Regions from separate parts of the Homo sapiens genome. Here all the other regions are reported to be linked to region 1. The links are microRNA targets in miRTarBase. Many come from high-throughput screens and were not tested one by one. Region 1 holds a microRNA gene; each other region holds the end of a gene's coding sequence.
What was found. Region 1 holds the annotated microRNA hsa-miR-4295 (CAGUGCAAUGUUUUCCUU, at 2,362-2,379, shown strand). A microRNA usually pairs through its seed, bases 2 to 8, with sites in the 3' UTR of a target mRNA and lowers its output. Matches are read on the target gene's strand: a 7mer-m8 pairs with bases 2 to 8, a 7mer-A1 pairs with bases 2 to 7 and ends in A, and an 8mer does both.

Region 2: the mRNA of SNTB2 is a reported target of hsa-miR-4295. The part of its 3' UTR that is shown has no 7-base or 8-base seed match.
Region 3: the mRNA of PIGG is a reported target of hsa-miR-4295. The part of its 3' UTR that is shown has no 7-base or 8-base seed match.
Region 4: the mRNA of PURG is a reported target of hsa-miR-4295. Seed matches in the 3' UTR shown: 8mer at 781-788.
Region 5: the mRNA of ERBIN is a reported target of hsa-miR-4295. Seed matches in the 3' UTR shown: 7mer-m8 at 2,088-2,094 and 7mer-m8 at 1,876-1,882.
Region 6: the mRNA of KIAA1191 is a reported target of hsa-miR-4295. Seed matches in the 3' UTR shown: 7mer-m8 at 2,718-2,724.

What each region holds. Positions count from the first base shown.
Region 1 is chr10:112,631,819-112,635,911 of GRCh38, forward strand. MIR4295 (microRNA 4295) reads left to right here and starts at 2,352; the gene lies at 2,352-2,436. The region is part of intron 5 of VTI1A (vesicle transport through interaction with t-SNAREs 1A); the gene reads left to right. LOC124902503 (a long non-coding RNA gene) reads left to right here. Exons shown (of 2, transcript XR_007062292.1): 2 at 1-4,093.
Region 2 is chr16:69,300,514-69,304,606 of GRCh38, forward strand. SNTB2 (syntrophin beta 2) reads left to right here. Exons shown (of 7, transcript NM_006750.4): 7 at 319-4,093. The coding sequence ends at 411. Among named protein-coding and RNA genes, the nearest start is that of VPS4A, 8.8 kb to the right of the region's middle.
Region 3 is chr4:538,572-542,664 of GRCh38, reverse strand. PIGG (phosphatidylinositol glycan anchor biosynthesis class G (EMM blood group)) reads right to left here. Exons shown (of 13, transcript NM_001127178.3): 13 at 2,465-3,512. The coding sequence ends at 3,296. Among named protein-coding and RNA genes, the nearest start is that of TMEM271, 36 kb to the left of the region's middle.
Region 4 is chr8:31,028,117-31,032,209 of GRCh38, reverse strand. PURG (purine rich element binding protein G) reads left to right here. Exons shown (of 2, transcript NM_001323311.2): 2 at 1-1,360. The coding sequence ends at 471. Among named protein-coding and RNA genes, the nearest start is that of PURG, 3.2 kb to the left of the region's middle.
Region 5 is chr5:66,078,059-66,082,151 of GRCh38, reverse strand. ERBIN (erbb2 interacting protein) reads right to left here. Exons shown (of 26, transcript NM_001253697.2): 26 at 1-3,729. The coding sequence ends at 3,622. Among named protein-coding and RNA genes, the nearest start is that of SREK1, 64 kb to the left of the region's middle.
Region 6 is chr5:176,343,886-176,347,978 of GRCh38, forward strand. KIAA1191 reads right to left here. Exons shown (of 9, transcript NM_020444.5): 8 at 4,036-4,093; 9 at 2,177-3,923. The coding sequence ends at 3,715. It overlaps SIMC1 (SUMO interacting motifs containing 1), which reads left to right. Exons shown (of 10, transcript NM_001308195.2): 10 at 1,298-2,104. The coding sequence ends at 1,560. Among named protein-coding and RNA genes, the nearest start is that of KIAA1191, 16 kb to the right of the region's middle.

The sequences.
Region 1 (4,093 bases):
GACTCATAATGCTCCATGTACTAAAGATTTGCACTCTTTAGCCCAGGATTGCTCAATCTGGGACCAGAGAACCCTTTTATTTCGCCTATTTTTGTTTACATCTTATAGAACATAATCCAGGATTCTAAGACACTGTAATCTATGAATCACTTATTGATGAAATTCCACAATATGGTAATTATAACAATATAATTGTAATTGTAATTGTAAAAATATACAACTTGGCCAGCCATGGTTATGTTGATCTTTTCTCCAAGTTAGTGTCCATCAGTTGGGGTAGTATTCTTCCCTAGGGGACATTTTGAACCTTTGTTGGGGCATTTTGGTTATCTCAGTGATAACTCAAGGGTAATAAACATCCTGGAATGTATTGCGTAGTCTTTTACAACACTCCCTGATCCTGCACAAACTCTCAAATGTCCTGCTGGTCATTTGTGAAGGTGCACACCCTATTTATAATTATCTGAACGTAGTTTTCCATATGAACACAAAGTATTTTTGTGTGGCTTGAACGTATGTGGAGTTTTCCAAGTATACAATAATTGTGTAAAATCAGGGTTTATTTTAAAAGAGTTCTTTACCATTGAAGGATAGACAGGATTATGCTACAGTAACAAATTAACCTAGAAATTCTGGTGGTTTAACACAACAAAGGTTTCTTTTTTATTTATGCTAAAAGTTGATCAAGCATTGACAGAGGGCTCTGCCCCACTTACTCAAGCATCCAGACTCCACCATGGGGATCGTTGCCAGCCACTGCGGGCAGGGATAGACGGGATTCACATACCAGCTCATCAATATTTTGACCCAAAGTTGAGGTACATCACTTCTGACTATAGTGTACCGGCCAGAAATAGTCATATAGTCCTACCTAACCATAAGGGGGTTAGGGAAGAGGAACAGGTGGAAAGTTGGGTGAGTACAGTGTTCATGGTAATGCGACTTGTAGTATTTGAGCTGTCATTACAGTGCTTGTGGATTGGTTTGCATATGTAGTGTCACATGCATGTTGATTGTACATGCATGTGACAGTTGTATAGGCACAAGCATGTACTTACTTAGTTGTATCTATTAGTATAGTAATGCCTGGGTATTTACAAATAGAAATACTTCTTATTTTGTTGTAAGTTATTTTCCTGTATTTATATTACAGCTAGGGCATTATATTGATTTCTTTTTTAAAAATCCTGTGTGAAATATTTGTTACAAAAAGGTGGTCTGGGCTGGGCGTGGTGGCTCATGCCAGTAATCCCAGCACTTTGGGAGGCTGAGGCGGGCAGATCACGAGGTCAGGAGTTTGAGAGCAGCCTGACCAACATGGTGAGTCCTGAGAGGAGAGGTCTGAAGGAGAGGAGAGGTCTGATGGTGATGAAAGCCACTTTTCTAGGTCTTCGGCATCATCTGGAACACATAGTGGGTCATAGAGAATTACGGGACTTACATAATAATAGTAAGAAGAAGATTAGCTCACATCCTTTGAGTACTCCGCATGTGCCAGGCACTGTGCTAAAACCCTGTAGGTTGATTCTCTGCTTTAAGCATCACCAGAAGCCTGTGAGGAAACCTCCGAATTCTCCATCTTACAGGAGAGAGCTGCTTTTTTCCTTCAAGTATAATGGAAAAGTTGTGGTCCCCAGAATTTCTGTCCTCCCTATGCTAGCACGAAGGGATAATTGATCTTCAGACATTGAAAAGAGATAGCAGGCAAAACACCGGGGCTGGAACAACACAGCAGGATACCCAGGGATCCCAAAAGGAAGTCAAAGAAGAGATTGGAGAAAAGCAGTGGTGAGGAAAAGGGCATTGCCCCCAAAAAGTAATGTCTCCCATGCAGAGAAGACTAGCATTACATAAATGTGTCACTGAGAGAGTTACCTTACCCTGACTCTGTCACCAAATTTTATTAAATGCCTCTCCTATTTCATCCTTGTTGGTGAACTTCCCAGTTCTTCTCTTATTTTATGGGCATAAGAGCTTATACTTTGCAGTTTAGTTAGTTAATTTATTTAAATAGCATTATCAAGTTGGCTCTAGACTAAAAAAAAAAAAAAGTCATGACTCACTCCAGAAAATACCATCAGTTAACAAACGGAAAAAAGGAAAAAGGATCACAGTTAACTCAGAATTATAAAACAATGGTTCTTTTAGGCTTCCTATTTTAGTGGTGTATCCAAACACCTTTTTCCCAGAGTAATAGAGCTTTCTTCCCTTTTGGTTGCAAGCATTATATGAGCAAGATTGGCCACTTTAAAAGTTTTGTTGCATCTTTACTTTCATTACTCAACCTTTATTTCTCCTCAGTCTTTATTCCATAAGAAATATGCTTCAATGGCTTATGCATTTAGAATTGACTTTGTGGAACAGTGCAATGTTTTCCTTGCCTGTGGCAAGACCACTTCGGTTCAAGGCTAAGAAACTAGACTGTTCCTACAGAGACCCTCTGGGTGACTCATCTCTTTTGAGATCCTGATTGTCCATTTTTTGGTTGGTGTTCTGGCAGCAGTGTGTGTTGCCCTGAAGGCACCCTCTCATATGGTGTTGACTACACTATGCTGTGCTATTTAATTCTTGTTTTGGATTGTGCCTCGAGTTTTAAGTCACTTGACAATACAGAAGGTTTCTTTCTCCAAAGATTATCAATATCATACCATTGCCTCTCGGTGGTTATACACACACACACAGACACACACACACATACACACACACACACACACACACACACACACACACGAATTTCATGTTTTCTTCCTTTTGAAACTAAATGTGATCTGTCTGACCTTTCTGAGGAGTCTGCTGCTTTTTCAGATTTATGTCCCTGTGACAAGGTGGTTTGGCAAGCTGTTTGTCTTAATCACTCAGCATCTCCATTAGACAAGCTGTTTAAAAATCTTCTACGTAATTATCTTTTTTGACTCTCACTCTTCCACATTCTTTTCTTTATTGTAAACTTTCTTATGACTTTTTTATATATCTGCCATGTTCTAAAAGGCATTTAAGCCTTCTTACACTGTTTTGTCTGCTTTTCATTAAGTTTGCCATCAATTTACAATCCATGCCCATTGCCTCCTTCACAATCTGAATACATAAACATGCATAATAAATAAACTCTGGGGTTGAATCCTGGACTGAGTGGCCAACATTTTTTCTGTGTCTTCCTTAACTGTTAAAATAGGCAGACAGAGGAGCATTAGAGGAGCTAATTCTAGGAGTCTCCTACGGACATTTGCCGGAGTTTTCACTGCCTTGTTGTTGCCTGTAACTGCAAAGTTCAGAAAGCTGGGGCTGGAGGTGCCTTTATTCATAATATGAGCCAGGCACTGTGCTCATTATTTGGGGGGAATAAAAGATAACACATTTCCTGCCTTCAAGCAGCTTTTACTCTGGTAAAGAGGATAATGCAGGCATGTAAATCTTGTGGAGATGAGACAGCGTGCTGAGGAATTTAAGGAGAAAGATCCCTTTGGTAAAGGCAGATGCAGAATTCATGGCAGATGTAGTGTTTTAGCAGAACCGTGAGCAGTCAGCAGGATTGTACGGATTGGAGATTGGTAGAGGCATTCCAGACAGGGAACCGCAAGGGTCAAAGCTCAGAGGTGGCCAAGTCTAGAATATATGCCAGAGAGAATTGAGAGAGAAGCCTGAAAGAGTATTTAGGCCTAAATTCTGAAAGGTTCTAAATGCTGGCTTAAACCTTGGATTTTTCTTGGTGAGCATGGCCAGAGTGGTGTTTTAGGAAGATTTTAGAAAGATCAAACAATCGAGACGTACTGATGGTTGTAGACAATGAAGACAGGGAAACCAGTTAAGAGGCTTTTGCACTGGTCTTTGTGAGAGGTTACAACAGTAGGAATGGAAAAGAAACAAGTATGAGAGATAATTCAAAGAAAGATTTGAGAAAACCCGATGACTGGTTCAAAATGGGAAGCAAAATAAAGGAAGATTCAAACTGAGTTGATATGTGTGAGTCCCAAGAGACCCACTTGATTCGCCCACATTTAGCTGATGGGAAGAGGCACATAGCAAGAAGCTGTGATTTTTATTCATGCCCACTGAATTTAAGGGATGAGTGAACTACCCAGCATGTAATAGGAAA
Region 2 (4,093 bases), not on the chromosome of region 1:
TGCTGGGATTATGGGCGTGAGCCACCGTGCCTGGCCTTAGATTTTAAATCCTCTACTATTTAGTTCTTCCTACCAGGCATGGTGAAACCCAGTACACCACCAGTTGTCTCCTAATTGGGGATGTGAAACCTCACACCAGTATTATGACATGGAATAACCTTACTCCATAGTGCACTTTTGCCTGTGGCTTTAAGTTCCTAAGAGTTTCCATAGCTCTGGCACATTCTTTACCTACCTTAAATTTATTTTGCATCTTCGTTTATTAAGTTGTCTGTATATGGTAGTGAGGTAGTGATGCTTAGTGTCCTTTCTCCACAGACCATGGACCTGCACTCTTGTCCGAAGCCGATTGTATTTGTGTTGCACACGTTTTTATCGGCCAAAGTCACTCGTATGGGACTGCTTGTATGAGCAACAAAAAATCAGAAAAGAGCCTTGACTGTCACAAGAAATATTTCCACCTCAAAAAAAAAAAAGCACAAAAAGAAACTCTTTGCTCTCCTTCAGCACAGTGCCTTCCCAAGGACCTGCAAATAACTGCTGAACCATAACCGTGTTTAAAGAAGAGCCTACCTTTCACAGTCTACCTTGGCCAGATATTCTAGCACTCTAAAAGGCTCCAAAATGAAGCTGTTGATTTATTCTCATTTCAAAATATGGTTTATGAGTAATTAGGTTTATTTCTACTGCTAAAAAGAATGGCTCATTGTTTTCTTTTTTTTTCATTGTTTTCATTTTTAGACATAATCAAATACCCAAGCATTGTTTTCTTTTTCTTCTCCCTGTAGGATTTGTGTTGTGCTTAGCCTTGATCTCTTGTTCAGAACAATTGTCCCTTCCCAGGTGCTAGCTTGCAGCAGCCTGTTGCTTCCTGAGCATTCCAGATAGGTCGTATGTCTTGGAATTTACTGTCCTCACTAGCTCCTTCCACCATAGGAAGTCCTTGAATTGTATCACCAAAGGGTTGTTCCATTTGCCCTGGATCTCCCTCTATCTCAGCCTGGCCATCACTTCCCACCTTATCCCAAGCTTTGCCACTGTCTCTAGGACTTAGAACTTGTAAATTTGATTTGCCTTGCCTTCTACTTCCTTTCTAGTGGTGACTGAGTTGAAAAGCAAGTTGGAAGCCACTGCTTTTAAAGAAAAGTTTTGCTTGGTTTAGGTTTTTCCAATTTTATTTTTGTTAGGAGCCAGGGGATAAGATTTATTTTAAATGAAAATCCTCTTCCTAGGTTAAGCCATTTTTTTTATTGCTTACCAAATGTGCCTTTGGTTAGGGTTAGTGGAGCTTTATTAGTCACTATTTGAATAACTGGAAATCACTGCCATTTCCAGGAGATCACCTATCCTAGTTTTGAGGAATAGTCATTGAGGTGGGTTTCCTTAATGGCATCTCTTCTAGTAGGCAGATCTGTTTGAACAAGATAAATCCTAAAGAGCCAGCCTGCTTGAGGAGTAGACTTGGTGGGTGAAGCCAGCAATTCCGCACAAACGTCATGTTGAATTGTTTTGGGCTGCCCAAAAACAACAGGATGCAGCATCCTGGCTGTGGCCTGGCCCTTTGTGGCAGCAGTGGCATGGACAAGCAACTGCTAATTCGAGACTTACTATTGGCTTCACAGCACACCCTACAGTGAGCAGGGTGATGAGACCGTGGAACAGCTACCTGCTTTTGGTTAAGATTGCCAGATATCATTAGGACACAGTAGCAGCAAGAATGCTGATTTTGTAGTGTTAGAAAATGAACTCAGCTTGTTTTTCCTAATTTTGAAGGTGGTATATATCTGCAAACATTTAAAATGGTATAATATCATATAAAATGTCAAAATTAGCACAGTCCCTGGATCTCAAAGAATAGGTAATATTGACTTGGATGTTCTTTATGCTCTCTGAAGAAAGGTCTAGGGAAAGTTCTTGTTTGCTTGATTGATCAAGAGTGCCACGGAAGAATGTGAGCGCTGTGGAGGGTGGAGGAGGGTGTCACTTCAGATGGGGCAGGCACAGGGGGAGAAAAGAAGAGAAAAACACACCTGTGTGCAAAATGAGCTATTTGGTTTCAGTGCGGCCTGACCGATGGGGAGGACCCATGAGCAGAGAGAGTTCTAGGTCAACATTGTAACTCCATTGTCCTCCTTCACCCATAAGTCAGTCCTCCTTCCTCATTACAGTGAAACCAACAATATGCAGAGGTTGGGGAGAGATGCCTGTTCTTCCCCCAGCTTCATATAATTGTCAAAGTTCCAAAAATGAATTATCTGAACTGCTTAAAACTGGAAATTAAAATCTAGACAAGAATATGTCTTTCAAGAGCTTTTTATGTTTTGAAAGTTCATAAACCTAAGATTGGCTCCATCTGAGATAAATTTTCTTTTCTTTTTTTTTTTGAGACGGAGTCTCGTTCTGTCTCCCAGGCTGGAGTGCAGTGGCATGATCTCGGCTCACTGCAACCTCCACCTCCTAGGTTCAAGTGATTCTCCTGAGTAGCTGGGGTTATAGCTACCCACCACCACACCCAGCTAATTTTTGTATTTTTAGTAGAGGCAGGTTTTCACCATGTTGGCTAGGCTGGTCTTGAACTCCCGACCTCAAGTGATCCACCTGCCTTGGCCTCCCAAAGTGCTGGGATTATAGGTGTGAGCCCCCGTGCCTGGCCCACAATAAATTTTCATTTCAGAGAAGGAAAAAAATCTCTTGAACGTCCAGAAATGATTTCTGGAATCAGAATTTCAATATGTAATACCCTCAGGTAGGCAATCTTGAACCCTCTATGCAGTGAGAGCATTATTAATATGAGATGTTGAATGATGCCTTTACAGACTTCAGCAGCAAAGCCATTTGGTTGAGGTTTTCTGTGTTAATGTGAAAAGCTAAGCCACTGAGATTTGCAGGGGAGCTTCTGAGCCACCCTGCTTGTTGGTTATATGAGGATGTAAAATAGGTGGAATTAAAATGTGAGCAGGAAAGGCAAGGCATGTGTGCATTTTCACTCATTTTGGTCAAGGTTAAACTGACATGTATAGCACTGAGGTCTGTAGGGTTCTTAATATCTTTTGAGTCTTGCTGTGAAATGAAAGTGTGGGAGGTTTCCTTTGTCCATTAGCAGCCCCAAGAACCAGAACCCTTTTGCTGCTTTTCTTACATACCTAACAGCTCTCCAGTCATGATGACCAAGGTTGTTCTTCAATCAAATGTGTTTGTGGGATTTTCAGTCCGCAAATGAAGTGCTCTCTAATGAATGGGACACCATGATAAATATGTATTTATATTTAGATGCCAAAGTATGGCAAATTATTTCCAAATGATAACTACAAATGGGAATTTTCGATATTCTACCTTTTTTATAGAACCAGCTCACTTTTCATTTCTTTTTCATTTTGAATTAAGAAAATTGTTGAGGATGTGGTGGGTTCCAGTGTGTGGAATGGAAAGGAAACTGCAGAATAGTGTCTGCTCCCCATTCAGAGGGACTGCTTCCTGTGCCCCCCAGACCCGGGGCTTCGACAGCTTCTCCACATTCCACACAGATGCCTAGGAGCAGCGAGTTGGTATATGAAAAGTCTCCCACCTTTTCTCCTAAAACTTCTCTCCTTTCTCTCCATAAAAAGAAAAGGAAAGGAACAAAAGAAAAACATTCAGTTTTTCTTTTTCTGAAAAAGGTAAGTCCTTTCCTGAAGTCATCAAATGAAACATTATCTGGAAATTAGTTTCTAATGTTGTATATGAAGAAATACTTAAATATAAGTTCCTGCAGTATTTATTAGATAGTTGTAACTGTAAACTCACCTCCCTAGTAGATAAGAGTTTCAGGTTAAATACTGGAACATATATAGGCAGTCAAAAATACTACTTTAAATGTCATTCACCTATTTTAAAGCCATGTTTTAGCACTTTTTAGGCCAAAGAAGGTCTGATAGTGCCTGTTTTTATGTTCTGTACTCTCACAAACTTTGTTACTCAAAATTATTGCATGGCAGGAGAGATTGGATTATTTATTTCTTATATTTTTATAAGTAAAAAAATCTTTCTAAACAACAAATACCTAACATTATTACTGATTGTTTTCCTAATTTATCCTCCTAAGTTGAATGGTAAC
Region 3 (4,093 bases), not on the chromosome of region 1:
AAGACAGGAAGGCAAGAAAGAAGGCCACAAAACAACCAGAAAACAAGTAATATGGCAGGAGTAAATCCTTACTTATAAATAATAATGAATGTAAATGGATTGAACTTTCCAATCAAAAGACATAGAGTGGCCGAATGGATGAAAAATCACTTTACCATGTAATGATCCCTCTAGTGTTTTCCCCTCCAAACATCTTTTGATTGTATTGTCAAAGTTGATCAAGTTATTGGTGTTACAAAAAAAATCCACTTGGTCACAGGGCTCCACTGAGGATAAATGAATTAAAGTATAGCATAAACAATACTTTAAAACAGTATCAATCTTGTCATTGCATTGTCCTATCAATATTCCATAGTTACAGATATGAAGAGGCAGAAACTCTTTGATGTGGACAATCAGCCTTCCAATTGAAACAAGGCTTTGTGTATCCTCTGCCTGAGAAGCTGCCCTTTCTCTGTTAGCTACCAGCTCTCTTAATAGATGTTATAAGAAATTAATTTTAAAAGAATATTGTATATTTCTTGTAGTGAAGAAACATTTATTCAAAATTCAGCCTTTTCTTTGGTTTCACTTTTCCTGTTAAATTAAAAACTTATATAACTACTTTGGATTAAAAAGTTATATATAATATTTATATATAATTTGTATAAATATATATTTATATAAAATATTATTTGTATAAATATTTATATAAATATTTGCATAAATATATATTTATATATTATTTGTATATACATTTATATAAATATTTGCATAAATATATTTATATAAAATATTATTTGCATATATTTATATAAAATATTTGCATATATATTTATATAAAATATTATTTGCATACATATTTATACAAAATATTATTTGCATATATTTATATAAAATATTATTTGCATGAACATATTTATATATTTGCATATATATTTATATAAATATTATCTGTATATATATTTATATATTATTTGTATATATATTTATATAAAATATTTATAAATATATAGTATGATTTTCATGTATGCATCTATGCATCCTCCCTGCTTCTTCCATTTAGTGAACTGTATTCACTAACTGTTAGTGACTGTTTCTTCTGGATGGTGAGATTTTTTTTCTTCACATTTTTATTTTTTTAGAGATGGGCCCTGGCTCTGTTGCCCAGGCTGGAGTGCAACGGTGCAATCCTAACTCACTGCAGCCTTGAACTCTTGGGCTCAAGTGGTCCTCCTGCCTCAGCCTCCTGAGTAGTTGGGACTACAGGCACATACCACTACACCTGGCTAATTTTCAAATTTTTTTTTTAGAGATGGGGTCTCACTACATTGCCCAGGCTGGTCACAAACTCCAGGCTTCAAGCGATCCTCCTGCTTCCCCAACCTCCCAAAGTGCTGGGATTACAAGCGTGAGCCACCATTCACTCTTTAAAGACTTTTCTGATGAGCTCGGTTGTGATATAAATAAGTGATTTTGGTATGGAATAATGAACAACATTTGGAAATTTCTATCATCCAGTGAACTGTTATTTTCCAAACAACAATGCAGATGTTAAGAATCACATCTGGGTAAAAGTTCCATTCAGGGTGCAAGACAGGTCAATGTGTCGTAATGCATCAGGACATGAAAGTTCATTGATATGATTTCAGATTCCACATGGCAGCTAACCTTTTCTTTTTCAAAATAACTTTTGTTTTGAAATAGTTGAAGACTCACAAGAAGTTGCAAAAATAGTATAGAGAGTTCTACATATCCTTCACCCACCTCCCCCCAATGATGGTATCTTACACAACCAGATAAATACCAGGAAAATGATGTGGGCACAATTCTATTAATTCGAATACAGCCCTCAGTAGCATTTCACCAGTTTTTATATGCACTCGTTTCTTTTCTTTTTGTCCAACTAACCTTCAGCAAACTAACATTTGTTGAGTTTTGGTGTTGGCATCAAAAAAGATTTGGTGTTGGTATCAAAAAAGAACATCCACAATAATCAGAAAAAGGACATTAAAATATGCCTCCTCTTTCCAACTACTGATCTGAGGCTGGATTTTCTTCATATATATATAATAATTATTATTTTTTGAGATGGAGTCTCACTCTGTCACCCAGGCTGGAGTGCAATGGCACAATCTTGTCTCACTGCAACCTCTGCCTCCCTGGTTCAAGCGATTCTTCCACCTCAGCCTCCCAAGTAGCTGGGATTACAGGCACCTGTCATCATGCCTGGCTAATTTTTGTATTTTTGTAGAGACAGGGTTTCACCATGTTGGCCAGGCTGGTCTTGAACTCCTGACCTCAGGTGATCTGCCCCCGCCTCAGCCTCCCAAAGTGCTGAGATTACAGGTGTGAGCCACTCTGCCCAGCCGATTTTCTTCTTATATTGTAACCAAACACACATATCACAACAGGTCAAACACAAAATCCAACTAGCTTCAATTAGGCCAGGCATTAAAGAGGTTTGTAAAAATGTAAAACATTATCACTTTTCTCATTAAACATTTATTTTTTCATTTTAAAGACAAGAGTCTCACTCTGTTGTCCTGGCTGGAGTACAGTGGTACAATCATGGCTCACTGCAGCCTTGAACTCGGCTGAAACAATACTCTTTCCTCAGCCACCTGAGTAGCTGGGACCACAGGTGTGTGCCATCACGCCCAGCTAATTTTTTGAAGTTTTTGGAGAGATGAGGGTCTCACTATGTTTCCCAGGCTGATCTCAAACACCTGGGCTCAAGTGATACCCCCACTCTGGCCTCCCAAAGTGCTGGGTCTCACTGAATTTTTTTGTTTTGGAAAATATAGTTACTTTTCCTTCAAGTGTTTCATTAATATGCAATAGATTCCTTATAAATGAATACTTTTTTATCTTAGTTTTCATCTCAAATGCCATAAACACTGATACATGTAACCCTCATAAACCAAAGCGCCTTGGGGCCCTCAGTGGTTTGTAGGATTCTAAGAGCTCTGTGCTCCCTAAGGTAATCTGGGTGCCTCCTCCCACAGAGCTCCTGGACTCTAACAAAGTCCAGAACCTTTTCATTCATTGATTTAAACACACATATTTGGGTCACACCATAGCTTATTCAGAGGAAATTAAAAGTTCAGAAGCTTCTAGAGTGATTGTCAATGGGGGAAAATATGATACAAACTGTATATTAAAGTGATCTTTTATTAAACTATTTACTGCTTAGTCTAAATTCAGGTAGAGCAGTCAAAGAAAGTTATCCATCAACTTTGTTGAATTCATATCTTTCATTTTAGAATAACAGCAGACTTTAAGCATGTATTATTTTTCCAGTGTTCAGCTTAGTCTAAGACTGTGTGAGTCTGGTTTGATCCATTGCCGTGAAGAATACACAGACAGCAGCTGTAATGAGCAGGTGCATTCCCTCGTAGAGAAGTTTTGGAGAAAATACACTCCATATAAATAAATGATAACGCAGAGATGTCACCAAAACGATGTACGTGAAAACTGGAATAGAACAAATCAGTGCGTAGCAGAAGCAAGCATGACTCAGTGCTGAACCACTGTTAATAAGAAAGAAAATGTGTATTAGCACATGCCACTTACATATCACACATGTAACAACACTTTTATTTTCAAAAAGACTCCAGTAGCTCTTGCCCTTGGAGTAGAGGGCACCGCGTTCCTTCTTCTGCACACACATCCAGTCACTATGGTGCTGGGACAGGTGCCTCTCCAGATGCGCTGGAGACGGGAAAACCCAACCTGCCCCCTTGGAGGCTGTGTTCTAGTGAAGGAGGCAGGAGAAACCAGATATGTAACATGTCAGGAAGAGACAAATTCATGAAGAAAAATGAAGCAAACAGAAGGATGGGTGAGGGCCACCATGTCCCCCCCCACACACACCTTGAGCTCTCCAGAAATGCTTCTGAAACTTGACTGTATGTAAAAATCACCTACAGTATGTGCTGGAAGTGCCACTCTGGAGCCCCCCCTACAGAAATCTGGATGTGGTTGGTCTGGGGTGGGCAGAGGTCTGAGTCTCCAGAAGGCACGGAGGTGCCCGAGGGGACATGAGCTGCAGCCCCAACTGCTCAGCCACTGTCTGCCACCGTCATCTGTAAAACAGCTCTGAAAAACGCAC
Region 4 (4,093 bases), not on the chromosome of region 1:
CGGGGTCGCTTCCTACGGATTAGACAAACCATGATGCGGGGGACTGGCATGATAGGTTATTTTGGCCACAGTTTGGGCCAAGAACAGACTATTGTCCTCCCAGCACAAGGAATGATTGAGTTTCGTGATGCCTTGGTTCAGCTGATTGAAGACTATGGCGAAGGAGACATAGAAGAACGAAGAGGTGGAGACGATGACCCGCTTGAACTCCCAGAGGGGACTTCTTTCAGAGTGGACAATAAAAGGTTCTACTTTGATGTGGGCTCTAATAAATATGGAATTTTCCTGAAGGTAAGTGAGGTGAGACCACCTTACCGTAATACTATTACTGTTCCATTCAAAGCTTGGACAAGGTTTGGGGAGAATTTTATCAAGTATGAAGAAGAGATGAGGAAAATTTGCAACAGCCATAAAGAAAAGAGAATGGATGGCAGAAAGGCCAGTGGTGAAGAACAAGAATGCCTCGACTAGAGTGAAATTGAACTCCATCAGGCAAAATTTAAAATCACAAATTGGCTAAAAGTACTGATCCATTATCCTTTGAAGAAGTTTTTCCTCTTTTTTGGCCCGTTGTTATTAGTAATACCTCTAGTAGTTGATACTTCAGGAAGTCTGATTCTCATGTTATGTTACACATAGATCACTATAATTCTTACGGGAATTCCAACCTTCCCAGAGCTAAATAGTTTAGCTGCTTCAACTGCTCCAGACTATTGAAGTATGCAAATCAGCACAAAATGTGACATTCTGACATTCTAAATACCATAACTAAGATTTACATTGCACTATGACATAATCCCGAAAAAAGATACATATACTTAAATAGAAGTGTGACTTTCCCCCAAAAGTATTTCAATTCTACTTCATTAAAAGCTGCTAAGCTTACCTGTAGGGCAGTTACCACAGAAACAGAAATTGACCTCCGGTATATATAAATATTTACTTATAAAAGTACAAGTAGACGTATATTGTCCGTTGAATAACTGAATATACCATCAAAGGATCAAATCTTATTACCTAATTAAACCTTAAAAATATAATGTCATAATATTTCTTAAGAATACTATAGTATTCTATAATTTCAAACTTTGTGGTAACCCTACATTTTATAGTTGCCATATCAAAGCCATGGGAGAGTTTTAATTCGTTATTCTAAGTTTAGTTACAATCCCTTCTTTACCTCTACTTAATGTTCCATATATTTTTATTGACTTTCCAAAGTTTCAGGAATTACTTTTATGTCACATTGAGTGGGAGGCTTCATCCAATGGCTTTGCTATGGAAATCTTGGTGGTGTAGCTTTTCATGCTAATTTAAAGATTGCAAGAGGTTTCTTCCCCAAAATATATCATGGACTCAAGGTGTTATACTTTATGCTTCTTCTTTAACACTCTTTCAGAAGGGTTGGTGTACCAATTAACTGATATAAAAATATACCTGTAATAATATATTTTAGTAGCACTTTTGCAATTGCTACCCTTAAAACCATGTCAACACTTCCAATATAATCCTGAATTTTACAGGTGTTTTAATTCTGGAGGGGGTGGGGATTTTTTTTTTCTAAAAATAATTTAGAATACAAATTTCCAGTCTGAGAAAAATATTATTTGAAGATTGGTTATAAATATATTTGAAAGGAAAATTCAGGCATTTTCCAAGGTGCTCTTTCTGACTTTACACAAGACTCACCCATTTACCTGTATTAAAAATTACTTTCCAGGAAGTGCCACAGCAATTTTTCAACACCTAAGCAATTTTTTAAACAAGTGGATATAGTGTTATATGTGTACCAACCCATCCTGTATTAATTGACTGAAATTACATCTATTCAGCTATATTTTCTTCTGAATGAAATTATTGTCTTTTATCTTGGCTTTATTCACCTCCCACACAATAAGTCCATCTAATCATATTTAAGAGCCAGAACACTGATTTCAACCCCCAAATATCACTCTCATTGATGAGAGCTGGCTGCATGGATTCAAATCAGAATGTAGCTCTTCTTTTATATGCTAAAAGTAATTTAAAATTATATCAGCGATTTTTTTCTTCCAGAGTTTTGTCCCCCAATACCTTTACGTGAGGTCACTAAGAAAACTTGATGGTATGAATTAAAAAAATTAATTTCATTGGTTTATGTTACTTAAGAACAAGCAATCAGTAACCCCGACATATATACTAGTGTTGGTTTGCAGATTGTATTTCACATTTCCTCTAGTAGCGTGAAGGAATCTCATTAGTTCATTATAATTGTGGACCATCTGGATCACTATGGAACAACTGAAGGTTAGGAGATAATGTTAGTACTAGAGCTAATAGCACATGGTGGGTGTTGAGACTCTAAAAGTAGCAAGGATTTTTAAACAGTCCTAACTGTAAAATAACTATGTAGGCTTGCTAAAAAAGTAGTTTTTGGTCTATGAAGGAATGATGTGCACTTGAATTACTGTACTACTGATTGTTATTGCTGCCCATCATAGTGCCTATTAATAATAATCAACCTGTCAGATTTTGGCAAACTGGAGCTGTGAATATTCTAGTATTTGATTGTTCCTATCGCTATTGCTATGAGTGTATACACTCTCTTAAAGTCTTCCTTTCTAAAATATTTATATCCATTAGGTCTAAATGATTTCCTTTTACCTTTTGGGTCTGATAAGATTTGGGTATGTGTCTATATCTATATATATACACACAGACATATGTATATACATGTATACATATATATGTGTGTATACATACATACAATACCATGTCAGACTTAAAGATAAATATCTTTAACTCATTGTATATAAACATTATTAAATTTAGTTTTCCATTAATTATTTAAGTAAAGAATTAGTTAAGCAGCCAGATTTTCTACTTTGTATGTATACTTCAAAGTTTTTACCATCTCAAAGCTGCAGATTAAATAGATGCATATATACTGGCAATTGAGTATACTCTAAAATTATTAAGCCTTCTGCCAGTCCTTTTGTTTCATTTTTTTCATAGTTAATCATTCAAAAATGAGATGATGCTATGACTTTTTGATACTTAAAATTCCCAAGAATTCATTAGCCGTAATTAAATATGATCCAGTTCAAAACTCTGGTCTTAGGACATGTATTGCCATGTATCTTATAAAATAAGCTACTATTCTTATCTGTGCAATATGCATTTTATTTATTGTCATTTGTAACATACATGGAGCTGCAAGTGTTCATGGTATCCTTCAAAATAACAGAATCCCTGCCTTGAAGACATTAAACTCTTAAGGCAACTGGAAGTTAGAAGTTAAAAAATGAGCATGAAAGTTAGTAACCAAAAGTACTAGTTCACTGTATAATTCTAAAACACTGATGATGTTTGCACCTAATAATCCAAGCATAATGTGGTACAGGCTCAAACTGTAGTAATATAAGCTAATAGTATGAAATTTGGAAACGGGTTCCTCTTGATAGTTGGCAGTGTGCTCCTAGCAATCGAAAGCAGCACTAATCTGTTGCTTTATGCAAAAGATGCAATGTATTATAAAGATATTAAAGTTCCTCTACATTTTATAATTTTCCTTGTTAAAGCCCCAGACTGCCATGTCCCTGAAACTTGAGTCAAACACAAGCTTATTTGCACTAAAGAGCATGGCCAAAAAAATAAATGACAGGGTGGAAAAGCTAGTTGGAACCTCTTGAAATAATTGGTTCTAATATGAGAATTTCACATTTGTCTATTTGAAAGCTGTATGGTCCAGGCAGACAATCTGTCAGTTCACTAATTTAATAATGCACTTTACCTTTTGTATATAGAAGATGTACATTTATGCCACTTGACAGGTGGGATGTGTTTCAATAACTATGTAGCTAGAATCTATAAGGTGATCCCGTGCATGCATATGTTTGTGTTGGAACTGTTGTTGTAACAGGTTTCCATTAAATCAGTGTAATGGAGAAGGGTAGAAGATGCTTTTGAAACAAATCCCAGTATATTTAACAAAGAATTTTAAAGTAGAGTTCACATTTGATGTCTTAAGAACTAGAATAAATAAAATACTATTTCTAACCCAAATTCTTATTACAGTTGAGACTATATTTAGTTGAGATTCCCCACAGTGCCC
Region 5 (4,093 bases), not on the chromosome of region 1:
TACGTTATAGCTGACCACAGATTCTAATCTTGAAAAACTGCTTCATGAGACTGTAGAAGATAGCATTCTCTTAAGAACTTTCCAAAACTAAATGACTACTTACTATCCCCTGGGCTTATGAATTCTGTAAAGAATTAGCAGCTTTAGGTAGAATATGGTCAACTTTTTCTGAAGGTCCTTATTTAGAAACAAAGGAATACCCAAAGGTCTGAGTTGGCTGCCTGTCTAGATTACTTTTTCTTTTTTTTTTTTAAAGAGGCATCTTGTTCACTTGTTCATCAATTAATGCTCTTGAATCATAATTTTTATTTCAATGTCCATTTCATAAGAAACCTATTCACTGAACATTAAAACAGAAGGCTGTAAGAATGCAACAGACTGAGTGAAAAAAATACCCTTCCAAATAGATTTCACACGTCAATCTCCATCAGAGAAACATTTCCCATCTTAATGCCTCCCTTTAGAAGTAAATAATAATAATTTGAGATAAACTACACTTCTTCCACACCTAGATATACAGGGTTTTAATGCTAAAAAAAAATTGTATATTTTTCATGAGAATTTCTCTAACCCCGAATTTTGTAAATAAACCAGTTTAAACATCATTAGTTTGTTATCTATCCTCTATGTGTTACTTCATCTAGATATATACAAAAATTTGGAATGAATAAATGTTGGTTGATAAAAATATTACATAGCTGCTAATGGGATTTTTTAAGTGCAGCAAATTAATACTTAAAAGTTTGGTTCTGCTTATGGCAAGTTTTGTGTTTAAAAGAATTAAGTGTATATATATATATCTTCATATCCAGTCCAAAGAGGTCAGAAGAATATTTACAAAATAAATATGTAGGGAATTTTAGAATTTCATTGATTCAGATGAAGTGATAATTCCTTAATTAGCATAAATCTTTAGATTGTATCAACTATTGTATGCCGTATAAATTACTCTGATCAGTATTATTTTTTTACTGGTTAGAGTAAGAAATTACTCTTAAAGACAAAATCACTAAAAGACAGTTGTGGTTTTGATGAATTGCTATATAATACTTACTAAAGTTAGTTATGGGTATAGGCCTTAACTACAATTTACTCAACAATATATAAACTAAAAATGTCTTCTCCACTTCCTCAAAAAATTTAATTATTTTATTCAAATTTTGAAACTTTATTACAGCAAAATTCTAATTCAAAGTCCTTGTCATTTAATTTTAGTTTTCCAATACTTTCAAAGAAAACTTGGCTATAATACTCCTCTTGGTAAAGTTTCTTACGCAACTTTATGTGTTGCAAGAATACTATAAAATTTTAACTAACTAGAGTAGGATAAAATGCCAGTGCATATAACATCTGTTGCATTTATAATACTTCAATGTAATGTGCAGACAATGAAGTTAAGGTTTGCTGAAGATCCATTGTTCCGTGAGGCTTAATTCCTTTTCCAAAATTATAATTGGTATATGTGGTTCAAGGTAAAGTAGTTGAAAACTTCACAATTATACTTATTAAATATATTTCTGATTAAAAGTAGAATGTGCCTGTGAAAATCTGAAATCAATAAAAGAAATGTTAGCTATTTTAGAATGCCAAAATTAATATTTAAAAACAAACTAAGAATAAAGGGAACACCGAGACTTGTCTTAAAGAAGCTGTTTGTCATTCTTTTTTTTTTTAGATTACAACACACATACAATAAGTGAATTTTATCAAAATACAGCACATTTCTTCTACTATATCCATAAAAATCAATTCCTATGTAAATAGTACTGAAAATCAACTAAAATGAGTTAAAATTTACAAAGAGTTGTTAAAGGGTTTCAATCAAAATTATTAAAACTATACAGTACAATAACCAATTGATAACATCTTGAAAGAAGTGCAATATTTGAGTTCACATATTTTTAAAAGTGCTGCCTACTTACTCTGACTAGCAAGAATGGAAAGTGAGTCCAACTCACTTTTGCAAAAATAATGTTGGTTGGTGTTTTAAGCTAGTCTTATAAAAGTCTTAATTAAAATCAAGGTTGATAAACAAAGCATAACAGATTAAAAATTCCCAAATTGCATTTCTTAGTAAATAAAAATGAAGTGCAATAACCAAATATTGCTCTAATGAAAGGTTCCAGACTAGCCTCAACTAAACAGTTATTGGTCTTCTATGGCACTTTTTTCTGGTCCAAATAACCATGCATTAATCCTTACCATTACATGTTACTCAAATTTTATTTGATTACATAGAACAAAAACAAATAAAATTAATGGTCTGGATAAACAAAATTAATAAACCTCTATCATCAAATATTTGTTACAGTAACTAGGAACAAAGAAAGGCAGTTGGTGGTAAAACACTATTACACTGATACACATAGAAACCCTTTAAAGACTCTGGAAGTGTTGAGTTCACATTTAATGTTACCTGTAGAAACAGCCCTTTATTTGAACACCTTTACACACTGGCAGGCCTCAAGGACCCATCCCTTTGCTCTATAACTCTCCACAGCAATTCTCTATCACTGTGCCAGTTTCACAAAGCTTGCTTTGGTTTCCTAGCTCCAAGTGTACTGTTTCCTTTTACTTTACCAAGGCAATGCAAGGCCAAACAAAAATCAAAGAGGCTTTCCTAAACCTTCGTAACATTTTGTGTTACAGGCAACACAATCTTAAAACTGGCCATTTTTGTTTCATTTGCTGCTTAAAATAAAAATTATAAATTAGATTTAAATGGAGCACTAATTATAAAACAGATTGCAAGTACCACCATTTGAAAAAAAAAAAAAAATCAGTGGATTTCCATAACACAGAAAATGCATGGACATGCATCTACAGTAGAGTTAAAAATTTCCTGTGACTAAAAAATTAAAAACTGAATCACCAGTAGCAAATGTATAGTCAATGGCTATGACAAGAACAGATCCTGCCGAGCTCATAAATGCAATTATTGTCTTTTTTGCTTTATAAAAAAGACATTACATATTTTATTGCATTATTCTCCTAATAAAAACATACTACCACGTAGCTCTCCCCATCCCCATTCTTTGCTTCCAGATTTTTATAGAAAATAACTGTTTTAGTCTGGCCTTGGAAAGTGAACCCACCAGCACCACCTTCACCTACTCACTCTTCAATTCAATATGCACATAGCAAAAGCCAACACTTCAAATCTCTTGCCCACATCAAAAAAAGTAGTTTCAGGAGAAAAACATTAATACCAGTTGAATAAAAATAAGGGCATAAAAGCTATGAGAGAGATAGCTCTGCCATCTGTCTCTGGGCTAAAATCAAGGCTAACTATTGCCTTGCACACAGTTCAGTCATGTATATGAAATCCAAAAATAAACCTACAATCTATACAAAAACAACACAGGTTTGTTTTTGTAGCCTTGATTGCTATGTTTAAAAACCTAACAAGTTTTATATGGTATGAATTCAACAGTCTCCTTTATATTCTGTACAGTGGTTCTTTCCCTCTAACCACAAGTTCCATTATTTCATTAATGTACAAATTTGAACATAATTTTTTGAGTTCTTCTTTATATATAAAAATAGTCAAAATATTAATTTCCCCTGTAAGTATCTTCCAATAAATCTTGCTGTCTTCCCCGCTTTTTTTGTCCACAGTGCTTATGAGGAAACTTCTCGTACAATGATGAGTTCAACTGTATTCTGGAAAGTTTTTAGCAAGGACACTGCTTGTCCATGTTCAATATTTATAAAACTGTAGCCATTAGCCTAGAAGAGGAAAAATGCTTTTAGGAAAAACATTTTATAGTTATTTATTTGCATTTCTGCCAAGTAGTTCACAAACTTGGAAGAAAATAAGAATCACTTTGGCAACTTAAAATAACATACAGATTCACAGGCCCTACCCAAACCAAGGAATAAAGTCTCTGAAGATGGGGTCTAAAAATGTGTATTTTGTCCAACTTCTCAGCCAATTCTTATGTAGCAGCCCAATGTTAGAAATCACTTACTTAAGAAATAATGTCAGACATGGTGTCGTATAATGCTAATGTGTATCTGAGGTGACCAAACTGTAGCGTAGCAGGGGGCAAGGGCTACTCTTCCCATTGTCTTGGAGCCATCACATCAAGAC
Region 6 (4,093 bases), not on the chromosome of region 1:
CGGGTTCAAGCAATTCTCCCACCCTCAGGCTTCCGAGTAGCTGGGATTACAGGCATGCACCACCATGCCCAGCTAATTTTTTTGTATTTTTAGTAGAGACAGGGTTTCACCATGTTGGCCAGGCTGGTCTCAAACTCCTGACCTCAGGTGATCTGCCCATCTCCGCCTCCCAAAGCACTGGTATGACAGGCATGAGCCACCACAGCCTGCCATGAAACTTGTTCTTGATAGAATATTATCTAATAGTGTCCCAGTAATATACTTTTTAGGTAGTTGATTTTAGATTGAGCCAGGATACGGTCAAATATGAAGCACTGTACTTGGCAGTCATACTCTTTGGTCTCCTTTAGTCCAGCACAGTTCCCAGCTTTTACTTGTCTTTCATAATAGACATTTTTTAAGAGTCCAGGCCAGTTATTTTGTACATGTCCTATGATTGGGATGTTTAATTGCTTACTCGTGATCACACTCATGTTAAATACTGTTGACAAGAACATGGAGTAGGCCAGGCACGGTGGCTCACACCTGTAATCCCAGCACTTTGGGAGGCCGAGGCTTGCGGATCACTTGAGGTCAGGAGTATACACACACACACACACACACACACACACACACACACACCTGAGACTGGGTAATTTATAAAGAAAAGTTTAGTTGGCTCACAGTTCTACAGGCTGTACAGGAGGCATAGTGGCCTTTGCTTCCAGTGAGGCCTCAGGAAACACAATCGTGGCTCAAGGGGAAGCAGACACGTTTTACGTGGCCACAGCAGAATAAAGAGTGAGGAGGTGCTACGTAAACACTTTAAACCACCAGACCTCATGATAACTCACCATCACTAGAACAGCACCAAGGGGATGGTGCTCAACCATTCATGAGAAATCACCCCCACCAGGCCCCACCTCCAACATCAGGGATTACAATTTGGGACTGTCTAGTTGTTTATTCATGATCATACTCATGTTAAATACTATTGGCTAAAACATGGACTAGATGAATATGTCTAATTGTTTCCTCAGTATTTTCATTTTTTGACCATGTTATGTGATCATAAAAAATGACACAGATCCAAACCATATCACTTTTTTTAATGTAAAACTTCTTAAGGACCCGAGAGAACTGAGAACAAAGGGCCTTTTGGAAGTGGAGTTACTGCAGGCACTCACACAGCCTTCGACTTGTATCCCTGTAGCTAGTCAGCAAGTCTTTGCCAAGACTCTACCTACCAAAATTAGACTTCTTAAAAAGAATTAAAAAGCAGTTCAGAGCACCCAACTGACTTTTTTCCCTCTTGCAGAACACTTAAGGAGTTCCGTGATCGACCGAAAGGACTTAATAATCAAAAGGATTAAGCCCAAACCCCAGCAAGGAGATGACATCACAGTGGTAGACGTAGAGAAGCAGATTGAGGCCTTCCGCAGCCGCCTGATCCAGATGCTGGGGGAGCCTCTTGTCCCCCAACTCCAAGACAAAGTGCACTTGTTGAAGCTCCTGCTCTTCTATGCTGCGGACTTGAACCCTGATGCAGAGCCCTTTCAAAAGGGCTGGAGCGGCTCCTGAGGGCCTGCCAAGCACTGAATGCCAAGAATACCTCCTGAACTCTCTCTCCAACTGCTCAGAAGCTCTAAAAGCATGAAAAGTGGTTAAAATCTTACAGGACCAAACCTGCATTATTTAATCAGTAGGTTGTAATTTCTAACTCTAGTAAATATCTTTTTTTAAATAATCCTATCCTAGCCTGTTCTCAAATATGGCTTAAATATACAAGGTATATATATTTTTTAATAAATTATTTATCTATACTTTTTTGAAACAGGTTAATACTCTGTGCATCACATGTTTAACATTTTCATTCAAGATGTGGAAAAAATCCCTCTGCTGAACCTAGTCTATACACCAATATTATGTCATTCAAGGTACCGACAACCTGTTTCAGGAGAGAGACGTTCATTTTTCCCTAATGAAATGCAAGCATTCTGTTAGACCTATTATATTGCCTGTTAATTTGACTGTAATGAATAGGGGGTAGAAACAAAAGGATCAAGTGTGTTATAAAACATTTGATGTTAAAAGGAGACAATAAAAAGGCAATGGTTTTTCAAAATACCAAGTTCAGTGTGACTCTGGGTGGGTAGAGTGGAATAACTATTGTTAAAAGGACAAAAAAATAGCCACATTTGAGAAAGTAGTAAGGATTTTTATTGTCAAAACGAGATCATAATAGAAGACACAAATAAATTAATTGTTCTCATAATTTTAGACTCCAGGGCCTCTCTATGGAAAGGCCAGCTTCTTATACAGACAAGGTACTATCCAAAACAAAAAGCAGGTATTTGAGACAGTGTTCAAGACAACAAGTGAACTTGTACACAGTGAAGAGAAATAAAAAGGTGGCTTCTGTATTTCCCTCCCTCAGTAAGGTTATGTGTTGCATAAAGGGATGAGGCTCATTTTGGTGAAAAATGCTTTCATACAGAAAATTTTGAATTGAGTGACCTCCCCGCACAGGCGTTCCAGGCCCTGACCTGAACAAGGAAATCAAAGTAAGTTAACACCACTGGCTTCACATGAACCTCAAGACTATAATCTAACGGTATCTACCATCTCCTTTACTTTAAAAAAGTTTAATGTCCATTTACCTATACCAAATCAGTAGACTTAATTTTCTCTCTTAGGAAGTTTTTAACCAAATTACAGCTAAATTAATCTCACTTTAAAGTGCAAGAAAGGCTCTGCTAGAGTAGTGTTTGTTCTGTGGCATAGAAAGAGGAGCATGCCTCCTCCGGCACTGGCCTAAGAGGCCCCACATGAAGAACTAGCTGCAAGACAGTGATCCATTAGGTCTGCCAAAAAGCAGGGGGACTCAAGGTTCAGCCTAGAAAGAGGGGTCCCTGCCAAGTCTGGCTTTTACCTGTACCCAGGTCCCAAACAAACCTTGGGTCCCCTAACTGATAAGGCTGGAGCACAGCACCAGTCATCAACAGGGCCAAAGTCGTCTTAGCGAGTCAGTGAGCACCTCTAAGCCATGATTTGTCAATGCTCACATGGATAGTGGTAAAGGAATAAAGAAGCCTGGGTTTTGGAACAGTACAAACATTCTTTACCTAGTAAGCAGTGATCAAAGTTCTTACCTAGGGTAAATGATGAAAAAAATAGGTAATGAGGTCCCCATACACCCGTGCTGAGAATATTAGTCTAACTTTAAAGCAGTACAAAATGGCTTCTTCCACACAACAAGGGCAAGCTTTATACTAATGTTTCTCAAAAACCAATTACATCTCCAGCTCTAGCCTCAATTTAATAGGTTTTTTACTTTACTTTATTTATTTATTTATTGATGGCGTCTCGTTCTGTCGCCCAGGCTGGAGTGTAATGGCATGATCTCAGCTCGGTACAACATCTGCTTCCTGGGTTCAGGCGATTCTCCTGCCTCAGCCTCCCAAGTAGCTGGGACTACAGGCGCCCACCACCACGCCCAGCTAATTTTTGTATTTTTAGTAGAGACGGGGTTTCACCATGTTGGCCAGGCTGGTCTTGAACTCCTGACCTCAGGTATCCACCTACCTTGGCCTCCCAAAGTGCTGGGATTACAGGCGTGAGCCACCACGCCCAGCTGATTAAGTTTTTAAATATACCTTTCCTATGTCAAAGCCAAGGTAAAAGGGGAGTGGGATGCAAGAAACCACCTTTACCAGAATCCCTGGAAAGAGGGCTCTAGAAGCCAGTGGGTGTGAGCACATTCAGGTCACGGGGTTTGAGGTTATGGGCCCGTGGTGGCTGTTTCTTTCCTTCCATCACTGGGATGTCCATCTTGGGGGGCTTCAAGGCTGCTGGATCTTCAGCCATTCGGTTGGCCTGGGCACGTATCAGTTCCAATGGAGAGGGCTTCTGGGCTCCTCGGTAGGCCTGGGTGGCAAAACTTCCTACAAAAGTGAACCAGAGTGCAAATGATTTCAAAACCAGTAAACAGCTCCCGGTATACAATATGGTAAGATGTCTGCCATGCTGCTCTCTTTTTTGAAGGTGCTGCCTTACCAGAATCGTACTTCTGAAGGGATCTCGGTCCAAAGAGGCTCCACTTATCTGACAAGTT